Linked DNA regions of Homo sapiens. The protein of the gene in region 2 purifies or fractionates together with the protein of the main gene of each other region. This does not show direct contact. Each region holds a gene or a part of one and is shown on either strand. Other genes may lie near its edges.

Region 1 (2,588 bases), on a different chromosome or scaffold from region 2:
AGGCCGAGGGTGATGGTGGGAGAGAGAAGAGACAGAGAAGAGAGAGAGGGGAGGAGAGACGGAGAGAGAGAAGCTGATGCTGGAGTTAAACAGAAATCCTGAAAGGGGCGTTTGTTAAAATGAGAGAGACGTGGGCTGAACGACAGAGAAGCCCTTTCCCGCGGAGGGGCCGGAGCCAGGGGCTCCAGGGGGTAGTGTGGGGCGCCAGGCCCTGAATGGCCGCTGGGTAGAGGACAGCACCTGAAATGGGGGCGGGCGCGGGGGGCCGGGCCCCGGGGCCAGGGGCTCCACGCTCGGGAGTCCCAGGGCTACGGCTGACATCCTTTGAGTCTGGTGCCGGGGCCTAGTTGAGGGTCCCCCGGCAGTTCTCGGAGCCACAGAGGCAGGGGATCTTGACGTCCTCGATGGGGAACTTATAGTCATAGGTAATCTCCTCATTGACGTTAATGTGCTGCTTCGAGTAGATGACTATCTTCTTCTGTGACTCCACCGTGATCACCTTGGCATAGCAGTTGGGCTGCAGGCAAGGTGGGGGGGAGAATGAGCCCCTGGTCCCCCAGGGTCCCCCACCACTGCAGACCCCCCAAACCCAACCAGGCCTGTGCTTAAGGCCTGACATGCCACGTGACCCCCAGCCCACTGCTCTGCTCTGGACCTTGGCTCCCCCGACCCCCAGGGGTGACCCCTTGCCTCTGATATTAAATAATGATGATAAAAATTATTTCCCAGGCCTTTCATTTCCATTCGTAGTACAAGTGCCTCCCAAATGTATGTCTATTTTTAGCTCAGGTCTCACTTCTGAGCTCTAAAAAAAGGGTCAGCAAACTATAGCCCCTAGCAGCCTGTTTTTGTAAATAAAGTTTTACTGGCACATAGCCATATCCATTCTCCCATTCATTTGCATATAATTTGTGGCTGCTTTTGTTACAATAGCCAAGTTCAGTAGTTGCCATAGAGATCATCTGAGCCACCAAGCCAAAAACATTTATTATCTGGCCCTTTACAGAAAAGGTAAAGGCCTCCAAGCCCATAAATGCAACTACCTGCTGTCTGCCAGTGGCAGCCCTGGGTACTGTCTTTGACTTAGCTCACACCTAAAGCATGATCTGCTCCTGCTCTGGGCAGCCGCTGCACCACACACCCAGGCCCCAGAGCATCTGCCTCCCTGCCTCCTTCAGTCCAGATCTGGCCCCAACCAGGGCCGGTGAGTTCAGTCCCGGAAGGGCCTCTTGGTTGTGTCTACTGCTCTCCACTTCTGGGGCCACCAGCCACGCTCAGGCCCCCATCACTGCTCACCCGCCTGCTACAGCCCCCTTGGCCACTCTCACCCCTGAAAAAATCCACTCCTGCCCCAGCAGCCAGGGAAACGTTTCCAAAGGGATAGCAGAACCTGTTGCCCGATGGCTCCAACCTTCCAGCGACCTTGGCTCTCAGAGAAACTTAGTTCCTCAGCTTGGCCACCCTCAGCCCTGCCCACCCCATCCTCTTACCCCACCCCATGCCCACTGCCTCCCTTGCTATCTCTCAAACAGGTGTTCTCCCAACTGCCCCAGGGCCTTTGAACACGCAGTTCCCCTTGCCCCAGCACCGCTTCCCCTGGGCAATTCCCTCTCACCCCTCAGATCTCCCCGGATATTCACAGGAAAGTCCCTACCACCCAGGCAAGGATCAAGTCACAACGAAGAGAGCCAGCAGGCGCTGAGGACTGGCCTGGCCAGCACTCAAATGGCCCACGTGCAGTGACCCACCTATGTGGCCCTCCCAACAACCTAAAAGGAGAGACTGTTATTGTCTCTGTTTTACAGACAAGGAAACTCAGGCATAAGAGACATTAAGTAACTCACTAAGCTGCAATGCCAAGACTTGAACCCAAAGTCAGGGGCATCCACCCCGGAACATGCCTGCCTCCTGCTCAGAGCTTCCTGTGCTCTTCCTTCAGCACTCAAATCCCTGTTATCAGTGTCCCTCCCCTCTAGGCCTGCACCACCCAATACAGTCGTCACAAGCTAATTAAGTTTAAATTCATCAAAATGAAATAAAATTTAAAACTCAGGTCCCCAGATGCACTGGGCACATTTCCAGTGCTCACCACCACACATGTGGCTAACCCACAGCACAGATGCACGCAGTGCACCTCCCCCTTGCAGAAAGTTCTAGTGGACAGCTCGGCCCGAGCAGGACTGAGCCTGACCAATGAAGGCACGGAGAAAAGGCTAACGCAGAGAAATAACTCCGAAATTACCAATGAACTGAACCAACCACTTCTTTGAGTCCTCTAAATGCCACAGAAGTCTCACTATGCCCATTTGACAGATGAGAAACTGAGGCTCAGAGGAGTAGAGCTCCTGGTAAAAGACCTCACATGTCCTCCTCTCCCTATAACCCTTGGCCAACCTGAGCTTGGGAAGGAGGCCGAGCTGATTCCCGTGCCGGGGCTTCCAGGCCCTCCTGGCACAGAAGCAGGGCCAGGGGCAGGAGCAGGGGCAGGGGCCACCCCCCGCTGGGCACTCACGTTGCAGCTGTGGTTGATGAAGCGCGCGAAGTTGCCGCACTTGGTGGCGTCGATGATGGTGTCATGGTCCACCCGG
Region 2 (3,514 bases):
CCCAGCATAGCCAGGTCCTGCCAGAGAACATTTCCAGTGCCTCCCCAGGCAGTTCACACAGACAGACATATGCCCACATGCTCATCTGCTCACACTCCCCCTGAACTGTATTCACCCCACACACACTGAGTGCCTTCATCACTGTACTCCCTTGCTTCCCACCCCAGAAGCAGGAAGAAGGTCAAGAATCAGACCTTTGGCTGGGCATGGTGGCTCACACCTGTAATCCTAGGACTTTGGGTGGCCAAGGTAGGAGGATCACTTGAGCCTAGGACTTCAAGACCAACCTGGGCAACATGACAAGACTTGATTTCTACAAAAAAAAATTAGCCAGGTGTAGTGGTACACACCTCTAGTCCCAGTCCCAGCTACTCGGGAGGCCAAGGAGGGAGGATAACTTGAGCCCAGGAGTTCAAGGCTGCAGTGAGCTATGCTCATGCCACTGCACTCCAGCCTGAACAACAGAGCGAGACCCTCTCTCAAAAAAGAATCAGACTTCTGGGAGCCTAGGGAACATATACAGGTGCCAATGAATGTGTCCGTGCATGCTCTGCTAAGTGTGTGCATGGCTGCGTGAGCTAGAATGGGTTTTTGTAGGAGGAGCTCTGCCCTGCTGCTGCAGGACTGTCTGAAGATGCTGCACAGCCATGCTTCCTCACAAGCTCTCTTTTAAGGTTAGTCCAGGCCAACCACATTAATATTGTCCCCTTTGGGGTGGTATATTTATTGCAACACACAGCCTGGACATTCATATACAGGGCCATGGCACTAGGGTAAGGCGCCACAAACTCCTCCTGCTGAGGAGGCAACAAGGTATCTGGTCGCTAAAGCTGGGTGGGACCCATATCCCTGACAGTATTCCAGTATGTATGAGGCACTGCAGACCTGGGGTTTTTGTTCTTAGGTGAGGCCTGGCTCGTACGGCTTAAATTTCTGTTCTACTTTTCCCCAACTTGAGATGACTCGGAAGACTTTCTGTTCCTTGCAATGAAAAACAGCCTAACCAAAGTCCTTAAAAGTCATGTATATAACTACTTTAAAATTAAGATAAAACCCATGGCTTCGACTTCTGATGCAAATACCCAAGACAAATAGGGTATGAGGATTCCTCAAATACCGAGTGGTTTATGAATTAGAGGCCACATCATTTTATAACTAACCATATAAGGAAAATTTTCACAGTTAAATATATTGCTCACACTTGCTGACATACTGGCAAATTTTACCAGTTAAAAATATGCCGTGTGCAGTGGCTCACGCCTGTAATCCCGGCCCTTTAGGAAGCCAAGGCAGGTGGATCACTTGAGGTTAGGAGTTCAAGACCAGCCTGGCCAACATGGTAAAACCCTGTCTCTTCTAAAAATACAAAAATTAGCCAGGTGTGGTGGCACATGTCTGTAATCCCAGCTACTCGGGAGACTGAGGCAGGAAAATCGCTTGAACCTGGGAAGCAAAGTTGCAGTGAGCCGAGATCGTGCCATCGCACTCCAGCCTGGGTGACAGAGCAAGACTCCATCTCGAAAAATAATAATAATAATAATTTTACACTGGCACAGACCACTTTACCAAAAAAAGCATCTTATATTAACTGTACTCTCTGACCTAGTTACCTAATGTACAGACACACAGTACATCTTATATTACTTGGCACACCAACAAGTTAGCTATACAAATCACAATTCCAACCCAAACTTGAAGCTAGTAAATATATTTAGTATTTGAACTTGAGTTGTGTTCAAATGTTCATTAAATTGGCCTATGCAATCTTAACAATGTTCTAACACATATTTAAAATGCTCATTTCTCCTCCATTATTTAAAAAAAAAACACACACACACACAAACTATAACTCTGTTAGACAAGAAACCAAACATAAGCCAAAAGGCTCGGCAAAATCACACTTAAATAGGACAAGGAGAGCTTCAACTTCAGAATAATTATCAGGATACCAATCACACAAATATGATTCAACAATCACTTAAATATCATTCAAGAGGAATTCCTGGTAGTAAAAAAAGAAATCCCGTAATTAACTAGAGCACAGCATTATCAGAAACTGATTATGTAAAACAATAGCTTTTCTTTCAGGATGTGTGTATGTGTGTGTAACGAAGTTCACAGCTAGGTTACACTAATGACTCACTTAAACATTTGAATTTTCTGCTATCTTAACCTTTAAATCGACTGCAAAAGTAGCTGCCAAAAGTAGCTTAGTAGGAAAGCATACTACTCTCAAAAGAACTTGGTATGTCCAACTTATTTTACTACTTAAATTTTTTTTGATCACTGATATTTGAAACTAATTTTTAAGTAATGAATGCTTACTAAATCCATGATAATATTCAGCATATACAGGTTTTTAGAAGGGCACAGATTATATTCTTATATGTGTGTTTTTACAGCACCTGGAACATTTCTGTTCAGTATCTGTTCAGTATTACACATAATTATTGCAGGACCTGACAGTGTTTACTATCCTATTTTTTCCTTTTTTTTTTTTTTTTTTTAGACAGAGTCTCGCTGTGTCACCCAGGATGGAGTACAGTGGTGCCAATCTCAGCTCCCTGCAACCTCTGCCTCTGAGTTCAAGCAATTATCGTGCCTCAGCCCCCCAAGTAGCTGGGATTACAGCCACGCGCCAAAGTGCCAGGCTAATTTTTGTATTTTTAGTAGAGACGAGGTTTCACCATGTTGGCCAGGCTGGTCTCGAACTCCTGACCTCAAGTGGTCCACTCGCCTTGGCCTCCCAAAGTGCTGGGATTACAGGCGTGAGCCACCGCACTAGGCCTTACTGTCCTATTTTTTAAAAGCTTTTTCGACTGACCAGTAAATCAAAGTTGAAAAGGTAACTGGTACATTTTATTTCTTGATTTGGATTACCTTTTTGTTGTGAATTGGTTCTCAGTTCTAGTTTCCTTGTGACAAAACACTGATGGAGAATATATTGAACTGAAATCCCCTGAATCCATTCCCACTGAGAAAATAATACATTTGAACTGTTCACATTTCATTGTAAAAGATACACAACTTTAGAGATTACTCTTGAAGTTTTGAAAGTAAAGTGAATCAGAAGTCACATTCCTAGAAGCAGTCAGTCTGGAACAGATGTTTATCCTACACACCCAGTCCCCTTTACCACTGCAAACCTCTCTAATAGTTCATTACATTAGAACAACTGAGATGGGCCAGGATTTGTGAAAATAAAAATCCTTTGAGACATTTATTAAGCAGATTATCTCTGAAACTGCACCTTAGTTTACAAGCCTTTGGGCAACAATTTGACCCTCTTCTATGATAATTTGTGTACACACTCATTTCACATTTTCTCTGGCTTCCAATTTTAAATTCTTTATCTAATCCATACAATAAGTCACCCTATCAGACTTTATAAGACTACTGAAAACAACACTACTGCAATGCAAGGCCACTACATTTGCAAAATTGCCGATTTTAGTGAGATTTCCCTCCTTCAACTCCTCCTCTACCCCTCTACCTGGTTTAAATCCCAAGAAAA

Evidence for each region.
Region 1: the proteins of RERE (region 2) and SETD1B purify together in Homo sapiens (affinity purification with mass spectrometry, with the first as the bait; one large-scale study listed by BioGRID). This does not show direct contact.

What each region holds. Positions count from the first base shown.
Region 1 is NC_000012.12:121,827,995-121,830,582, reverse strand, and holds part of SETD1B (histone-lysine N-methyltransferase SETD1B), read right to left. Parts: coding exon 2,513-2,588; intron 518-2,512; coding exon 344-517; 3' UTR 1-343. UniProt on the Homo sapiens protein: Histone methyltransferase that catalyzes methyl group transfer from S-adenosyl-L-methionine to the epsilon-amino group of 'Lys-4' of histone H3 (H3K4) via a non-processive mechanism.
Region 2 is NC_000001.11:8,811,127-8,814,640, forward strand, and holds part of RERE (arginine-glutamic acid dipeptide repeats protein), read right to left. Parts: intron 1-3,514. UniProt on the Homo sapiens protein: Plays a role as a transcriptional repressor during development. May play a role in the control of cell survival. Overexpression of RERE recruits BAX to the nucleus particularly to POD and triggers caspase-3 activation, leading to cell death.